Linked DNA regions of Homo sapiens: region 1 is linked to region 2. Evidence: fine-mapped expression QTL. A gene starts in region 2. The other region holds a variant in brackets. All regions are shown on one strand. Distances are between the middles of the regions.

Region 1 (4,393 bases), 61 kb before region 2:
CCCCACCCCCCAAAAAACCCAGCCTATCTTTTCGCCTTCCTCCCGCTCAACGGCATGTTTTTCCACGGGTTGTTATCTCTGTGGGGAGGCAGACAACATATATATATATATACATTTTTTTTCCTAACACACCGACTGACCCCGCCCCTTTTCGGCGGGGAAAACAGCCACAGCCTGAGCCCTAGCAACCTGCGGCCCACTGAGAGGGAGAGTAGCCATTGGAGAGTGGTCACTTTGTTCAAGCCAGTGTTGTCATCAACCAGTATTCTAAATGAGTAGCTTCCGTCTCAGTCTGATTGTATTGGAGCAACTGCTAATTAGAACCACTGCCATATACTCAAAACTCTGCCCTTCTGCAGAATATTCAGAAACGGATCCATCTCTTTGCAGAAAAGGCTTACACATTAACGTAGCCAATTAAATTTATGCAGTACATGTTCTCATTGTAACAGGAGACACAGCGGAAACCAAACCTTTCTTATTCAGACATTTGCTAGTGATACACTAGATACACTAAATTACCATTCATTGATTTCAAGGACAGTATGGAAGCGGGGTGGAGGAAGCCAGGAGAGGGAGATGTTTCAAAACAGTAAAGAATCAGTGTGTCTGGGAGGTGCTAAGGACCAGATCTCTTTACCTGGCAGAATGCTAATGTTCATAGATTTAATAGCTTCCTTGAATGATTGAGATCAGCTACCAACAGCATTGTGCCTACAAATTCCCTTTATCTGACACCAAGGTATTCTTGATCTTTTGTTAATTACCAACGAAGACCATTTCAAAAGAGCAAGCTTTTCACTTAGCCCCAGGGGACCTCTTGGAGCTGGAGACTTGATCTCACCCCACCCCCACCCTCATCCAGACCTCCCAGCAACCTAGCTACTCCCTTGCACAAGCACAGAAACACAACACAATTCACACCGTAGGTACCTACGACCTGCAATCTGAGTGGGAAACACACCAGAGCTCAGAGAAATAGAAAAATCCATCCTGATCTGGACATGAAATTTCTTAATTCAACCAAGTCCTTACCTAGGTTACACTGGCTGCCAAAAAAAGCAGCAACAACTGGAGTTCTTATCCTTCCCCAATATTTTTCCAAGCCTCGATCCTCAGGAATATCCTTTTGACTATGGTGGGAACCAATATTCTGGTGTCAAAAAGAGGAATCTGGCTTTCTGTGTTCTTTTACACACACACACACACACACAAACACACACCCCTCTATACCTTCTCCCATGGGAATGATGGAGGTGTAAACCAGCCTGACCTATTAGGTGTTTATGCCAGAATTCACTGTCTCTGTGAATGGCACTGTCAACCACCCAGCTTCCTTAGTCAGGATCTAGGGGGATCAGCCTTGACTCATCCCTGTCCCTCACTTCCTATATCATGTCAATCAACAAGTCCTGATGATTTTATTGTAGTCAGCTCCCTCCATCTGTACTGCCACTGTGCTGGTTCAAGCATTTATCAATCTTCTCTTCAAATATTGCAATAGCTTTCAAACTATTGCAAAGAGATAAGATCTCTTTGCCTCCAGTCCCAATGTCCCCAGTCCCTTCACTTATGACTGACAGAATAATATTTCTAAAACAAAAAAACCTCATGATATATGCATATCAGTTCAAATTTCTGCAGTGACTGTCATCTATATGGAATAAAATAAAAACTCCTTGGCTTGGCCCAAAGGTAACTCAGGATCTAACTCCTGCCTACTTGCTTCACCTCATCTCCTACAAAGACTGTCTGTTTTACACGCACACTTTTTTTTTGAGATGGAGTCTCTCTCTGTTGCCCATGCTGGAGTGCAGTGGCCTGACACCAGCTCATTGCAACCTCTGCCTCCCGGGTTCAAGCAATTCTCCTGCCTCGACCTCTCAAGTAGCTGCTCAAGTAGCTGGAATTACAGGCACCCACAACCACACCTGGCTAATTTTTTGTATTTTTAATAGAGATGAGGTTTCACCATGTTGGCCAGGCTGGTTTCAAACTCCTGACCTCAAGTGATCTGCCCACCTTGGCCTCCCAAAGTGCTAGGATTACAGGCATGAGCCACCGTACCCGGCCACACACACAGTTTAAGGTTCAGTGATAATGAAATACCATAATCCCTCTGCATGGAATTTCTTGCAATGGCCCCTCCCTGCCCTGTCCTTTCCCCTTTACTGTCTGACAAGCTACTACTCAACCTTTAGATCATAGCTCAAGCATCACCACCTCTATCATTTCTTCCTTTCTCCAGGCTCATTTAGGTGTTTTTTCCCGTTTGGTCCCACTGCATCTTATGCTATGCAGATCTCCATTATCTTTTTTTTTTTTTTTTTTTGCATGTCTGTCTCATACTGTACTCTGGGTACCAGAATGATAACTTTTAATTGTTTACAGTGTCTGGCACATAGGGATGCTAATAAATGGTGAATATCAGTATTATCATTTTTAGTTCAACAAATAGTTATTGAGTACTTGCTCCATACAGGGACTTTATATGCATTACTTTTCACTCTCACAACAAGTTTGCAAAGTAGATATTCTCTTTATTTTATAGATGAGGAAACTGGAGTTTAAAGAGATTAAAAGACTTACCTAAGCTAAACAACTAATATGTACAGTACTATACTTATA[T/C]TGGCAATTTCACACCAAAACAAGTACCTGGTCTGTTTTACTAGAACTGGAGCATCGTAAAGCCTTAATCTTACATATCTTTGACTTGACCTTTTTATGCCAGCCATATGATTCTCCCATCTCTAGATATTTTTTTTTTTTTTTTGAGATGGAGTGAGTTTTGTTCTTGTTGCCCAGGCTGGAATGCAACAGCATGATCTTGGCTCACTGCAACCTCTGCTTCCTGAGATAAAGCGATTCTCCTGCTTCAACCTCCCAAGTAGCTGTGACTACAGGCACCTGCCACCACATCTGGCTGATTTTTTTTTTTTTTTTTTTTTTGAGATGGAGTTTCGCTCTTTCACCCAGGCTGGAGTGCAGTGGCGCGATCTCGGCTCACTGCAACCTCCACCATCAAGCGATTCTCCTGCCTCAGCCACCACGCCTGGTGAATTTTTGTATTTTTAGTAGAGACGGGGTTTCACCATGTTGGCCAGGCTGGTCTTGGACTCCTGACCTCGTGATCCGCCCGCCTCCGCCTCCCAAAGTGCTGGGATTACAGGCGTGAGCCACCAGGCCCGGCCTGATTTTTGTATTATTAGTAGAGATGAAGTTTCACCATGTTGGCCAGGCCGGTCTTGAACTCCTGGCCTCAGGTGATCCGCTGGCCTCAGCCTCCCTAAGTACTGGGATTACAGGCGTGAGCCACTGAGCCCAGCCCCATCTCTAGATTTTTACTGAGACATAATTCACATACCATGCAAATCACATATTTAAAGTGTATAATCCAATGGTTTTCAGTGTATTTACATGTACTAAACTGATACAATCATCATCACAATCTAATTATACAAGAATTTTGTCACATCCCTCCAAAAAGAACCCAATATCTATTGAACAGCTGTAGATGTTTAAATAATAGTTGTCCAGGGGCTAGTGCTTTAGGAAGGTTTTTCCCTTAGATGACTGAAATACCATTTTATGTCTTCCTACAGTGATCTTTTAGAGCTATGCTATGTAATACTTTAAGGCTGGGAGACCTTACCATGTTTTTTAAAAAAATTGGGCCTGGCCCAATAAAGCTGGATTCTGGTTCTGCAAATACCAGAATAACACTTTACTTCACAAATATGCTAAATGATGGATTGGTAGGTTCCAGAGTACTGCTTTTCTTTTTTCTTTCTTTCTTTTTGTTTTTGAGGTGGAGTCTCGCTCTGTCGCCCAGGCTGGAGTGCAGTGGTGTGATCTGGGCTCACTGAAACTTCCACATCCTGGGTTCACTGATTCTCCCTCACTGATGCTTCCGCCTCAGCCTCTAGAGTAGCTGGGACTACAGGTATGCGCCACCATGCCCAGCTAATGTTTGCATTTTTAGTAGAGACGGGGTTTCACCATATTGGCCAGGCTGGTCTCAAACTCCTGATCTTATGATCCACCCACCTCAGCCTCCCAAAGCTGTGGTTTTCAAATTTGTCTGCACATTAGGATCAAGTGGGGACCTTCAAAAAATGATGCCTATGTCCCACCCCCAGAGACTGTGCTTTCATTTGTCGGGGTGTGGCCTGGGTTTCAGAATTTTTAAAAGGTCTCTAGGTGATTTTAATGTGCAACCAAGTTTGAAAACATTGTTCTAGGGAAAATGCCAGTTGCTTTCCAGGCTGACCAGAAGAGCGGCAGTTATTTCTTGCTGGCTTTCATGCTTTCTTAGCCTTTTCATATGTGCTTCTACTTTGTCATTTTTGGTTGTTCTCATATGTGTATTTCTAAGGTGTGTTTGAGATTTTAG
Region 2 (4,393 bases):
TCCTTAAAAGACTTGTGCCAAGACACCAACAATTAGGAGGCAGAGAAATAAATCTCACCTGATTACTTGTCGGGTCACATTTGCCTAAAATGATAGCTGAGTCTTCAGCTATCAAGAGTGGCTCGCTTTTCTCACAGCTCTCCTGGCTGATGAGCGTGTCCCCATAGTTGGGCTGGGGGAAAATCAGGTGACTCTTCTGCGAGTCCGCAATGAGAGAGACCTCGTGGGAATAGGTTTGCAGGAAAGCCTGTACCCCGTCCACGCCTACAAAATGTGACGTGGGCATACCTGCCAACCCGCCTTCAGAAGCCTGCAGCAGGCGTGACTTATGCCAGCGCCACAGCCTGAGTGCCAGCAGCACGATGACAAAGACCAGGAAGATGCAGGAGACTGCGGCCACCGCCACCACCAAGTACAGCGAGAGGTCTGAGGTTTCAGAGTTAGCCAGAGACTCGAGGCTGCCGAGGTCCGCCAGGACTTCGGGGATGCTGTCGGCCACAGCCACGGTGAGCGTGACGGTGGCCGAGAGAGGGGGCTGGCCGTGGTCCTGGACGGCCACCACGAGGCTCTGCTTGAGCGCGTCTCTGTCCAGCAGTGCCCGCGCTGTACGCACCTCGCCCGTGTGCTCCCCCACCGCGAAGAGTCCCGGCTCGCTGGCCTTAAGCAGGCGATAGGACAGCCAGGCGTTCTGGCCTGAATCTTTGTCCACCGCAACCACCTTGGTCACCAGGTAGCCAGGTTCCGCAGAGCGGGGCGCCAGCTCCACGCCAGTGGAGCCGTCTGTGGGGAGGGCAGGGTACAGGATCTCGGGCGCATTGTCGTTCTGGTCCAGCACGAACAGGCTCAGCGACACGTTGCTGCTGAGGGGCGGGTCCCCGCTGTCACGTGCTATCACTCTCAGTTCTAAGTCTCGAAACTGCTCATAGTCGAAGGATTGTAGGGCATAGAGAACACCAGTGTTGGAGTTAATAGAGACATAGGAGGACAGAGGCACCCCCTGGACAGTGTCATCCGTCAGAGAGTAAGTGACCAGGGCATTCTGTTTGCTGTCCGGGTCGAGGGCGGTCACTGAGAAGATGGAGGCACCCCTGGGGTTGTTTTCGGGAATGTAGGCAGAGTAAGAGGAGTGAGGAAAAACGGGAGGGTTATCGTTGTCATCTGCCACATTCAGCCAGACATGAGTTTCTGCAGACAAAGGCGGGCTTCCCTGGTCTGTGGCTGTCAACGTTATATTGTAGCTCTGGACCAACTCCCTGTCCAGCACTCTGCTTGTTATCAATTTGTAATAATTTCCATAAGTCTTTTCTAATTTAAAAGGCAGGTGGTTAGGAATAAAACAGGAGACTTGACCATTTTCTCCAGAATCTTGATCTTGCACATTTAGAAGAGCAATCACTGTACCTGGAGGAGAGTTTTCCAGAATTGAATTAATAGAAGAGGTGATAGTTATTTCTGGAGCGTTATCATTCACATCCACAACAGTGATCAACATCGTCGTGGTGGTAAAGAGACCTCCACCATCTTGGCCTTGAATTTCCATCTCATAGAATCTATATTTTTCAAAATCCAGAGACCCCCGTACTTGAACTTCTCCAGTTTGTGAATCCAATTGGAATATTTCAGAAGCCTTGCTTTCCATGTTCCGAAATGAATACATTACTTCCCCGTTGATTCCCTCGTCTGGATCCGTTGCATTAACCATCAGCACCCGAGTTCCGGAGCTGATGTTTTCTGGAACACTCACGCGATATACGGACTGTGTAAACATTGGGATGTGATCATTTACATCGAGGACCACCACACGAATGGGAACTGCGCCCTTTCGGATGGGATCGCCTCCATCTAAAGCTGTGAGGAGGAGCAGGTGAGCAGCCTCTTTCTCTCGGTCCAGGCTTCCCTCCAGTACTAGCTCTGGATTCTTGGCCCCATCCGTTCTGCCCCGCAGTTGCAAGGAAAAGTAATTATTAGGGCTGAGCTGGTAGCTCTGGAGGGAGTTCACGCCCACATCTGGATCCCTAGCATTAGGAAGAGCAAATCGCGCCCCAGGAATTGCGTGCTCACTGACTTTTATCTCCACTTCGTCCTCCTGGAAGCTGGGGGCGTTATCATTAATATCTATTATTTCCACCTCCACTCCGTAAATCTTCAAGGTGTCTTCCACGAGAAGTTCCATATTTAAAAAACAGGAGGACACCGTCTCACAGAGCTCCTCCCGGTCTATCCTGCCTGCCGTGATCAAGCTGCCGCTTCGCGGATTCACAGCGAAAAGCTGTGTCTTCCCTCTGGAGACGATGCGGACTCCGCGCTTCGCCAGCTCCCGGGGCTCCAGCCCCAGGTCCTTGGAGATATTGCCCACGAAGGAGCCCTTTTCGGTCTCTTCTGGCACCGAATATCGGATCTGCCTGGCCCGGAACCCCCGCAGCGTCCCCAGGAAAATGCACAGCAGCAGCAGCAGCCGACTGCGGTCCCCGCGCTGTAGCCGATTCGCCATGGCAGGCTCTAAGCCGATATTCCGCGGTTTCTCGAGCTGGTTGGTTGTGAATCGGCTTATGTATCTATGAAGTCCTAGGCCGACTACATCCAAAATATATCAGAAAGCGAAGGAAAATACTTCTAAGTCTCCAGTGTCAGGATCTGTGAGTATCCATCTCATTCCGCTTTGTGTGGTAGAGGCGGGGGAGGGAGGGACTCAATGGCGCGCAGCTTCCCATTCCCTGATTGGTGAGCAGCGGCGCCTAGAGCCCATTCTTATTATTGCAACGACTAAGAAATTCCAGAAGAAATGATTACGCTCACCTTTGTGAATCACACGTATTTGTAGAGCTTAAAAACGATGATACACAATACTTACATTATGTGACGTTAAAACTTTACCAAGAACACCTGCGAAAGGAGTAATTATTAAAAGGGCTTGCTTAATTTTTAAAAAGTTTTCAAAATATTACTGGAGCTGAAAACTTGTAGGTTGTAGTTGGTTCCAATTGATTTTAACCGACTGAAAGGAACGACATTTCTGGAAGTGGAAATAATACGGTCCCGATAAAATCATCAGGTAGGATGCCTAACTATAATTCTTACAAGGTTCCTTTATTGAGTAAATGAAGATGAAATACTTGAGAAAAATTGAGTAGCATCAGGGTTTCAATTAAAATACCATGCCGTAAAAATATACCTGTATTTTATATTTTTAACCGAAAGGTATTTTACTTCATAAAAATGTCACCGGAGATTACCCATGTAGTTTGCTTTAAAATGTCTTTGAATAGTAGGAAGACTGAGGCATTTAATTTAAACTTTTGTTTTAATAATGATAACCATAAATTTGACCTATATTTTGCGAACTCTATGAAGAAGTTATCTAGAATCTTAAAATAATACCACTATATTGGAATATATTGGCATATTGTAATATAAAAAGGATTAAATACATTTTTAAATACTTACCTGTTTAAGAATCTTCTTATCTGCTTCAACGCTGGGAGTTAAAATGCTAGCCAGTAGCATGCTATCTTTGTTGAGGTTATCTTGTGTGGCTGGACAATGATCAACAGATGTGAAAAAATTAAATTCTGGATTCATTTGATCCCCAGGCACACAAAAATTATAGGCATAGGGCAACGTTCCCTCACTGTAGTTGGGGGGACCCACAGGTCCGGACTTGGAGCAGAGAACTGACTCAAAGCAGTCTCCTGCAGTAGGGCTGAAAGACTGTCGCAGGCGTAGAGCAATAGCTAGAATCACCGCGAGGAGAAAGAGCACAGAAATCAAGGCCAAGGCCACCACCAGGTAAAACTGCATCTCAGCCTGGGAGTCAGAGGGTGTGGGATGGTCGCTGAAATCCGGCAGTACCTCTTGCAAGCTATCTGCGAACACCAGGTGCAGCGTGGCAGTGGCTGAAAGGGGTGGCTGTCCTCCATCTCTTACAGCGACTAGCAGGCGCTGGCGGACCGAGTCCTTGTCACCCAAAGCACGCACCATGCGCACCTCGCCTGTTCGCAGCCCCAGGCTGAAGAGCCCGGGCTCACTGGCCTGCACCACGTGGTAGGACAGCCAGGCATTGTGCCCCGAGTCCGCGTCCACGGCCACCACCTTGGTCACCAGGTAGCCTGGCTGCGCGGCCCGCGGCACTGTGTCGAAGAGCGCGGAGCCGTCGGGACCCAGCGCAGGGTACAGCACCCGCGGTGCGTTGTCGTTACGGTCGCCCACCAACACGCGCAGGCTCACATTGGCGCTGAGCGCGGGCGAGCCCTGGTCGCGGGCCTGCAGCGTGAGCTCGAAGGTGCGCAGCTGCTCGTGGTCGAAGGCGCGCTGCGCGAACACCACCCCGCTCTGCGCGCTCACGGACACGTAGGACGACAGCGTTCGTGACTCCAGGTCGCTGGCAATGAGAGAG

Alleles and levels. Alleles are on the strand shown, and positions count from the first base shown. SD is a standard deviation of normalised expression in the study named.
With allele C in place of T in region 1, the expression in tibial artery of the gene that starts at base 2,668 in region 2 is higher (small effect, 0.26 SD a copy in GTEx).

What was found. PIP is the estimated chance that this variant, and not a neighbour inherited with it, causes the effect. A credible set is the group of variants that fine-mapping cannot tell apart.
Region 1: its variant is the best candidate, but not a certain one, in a credible set for the expression of PCDHGA11 in tibial artery (GTEx, PIP 0.78).

What each region holds. Positions count from the first base shown.
Region 1 is chr5:141,480,470-141,484,862 of GRCh38, reverse strand. All of the region lies in intron 1 of PCDHGA1 (protocadherin gamma subfamily A, 1), which reads right to left. The region is part of intron 1 of PCDHGA2 (protocadherin gamma subfamily A, 2); the gene reads right to left. The region is part of intron 1 of PCDHGA3 (protocadherin gamma subfamily A, 3); the gene reads right to left. All of the region lies in intron 1 of PCDHGB1 (protocadherin gamma subfamily B, 1), which reads right to left. It also overlaps PCDHGA4, PCDHGB2, PCDHGA5, PCDHGB3, PCDHGA6 and PCDHGA7, and 11 more genes. Among named protein-coding and RNA genes, the nearest start is that of PCDHGC4, 2.4 kb to the left of the region's middle. The variant T/C (reference allele first, on the strand shown) is at 2,629.
Region 2 is chr5:141,419,326-141,423,718 of GRCh38, reverse strand. PCDHGA11 (protocadherin gamma subfamily A, 11) reads right to left here and starts at 2,668. Exons shown (of 4, transcript NM_018914.3): 1 at 59-2,668. The coding sequence starts at 2,491. All of the region lies in intron 1 of PCDHGA1 (protocadherin gamma subfamily A, 1), which reads right to left. All of the region lies in intron 1 of PCDHGA2 (protocadherin gamma subfamily A, 2), which reads right to left. The region is part of intron 1 of PCDHGA3 (protocadherin gamma subfamily A, 3); the gene reads right to left. It also overlaps PCDHGB1, PCDHGA4, PCDHGB2, PCDHGA5, PCDHGB3 and PCDHGA6, and 9 more genes.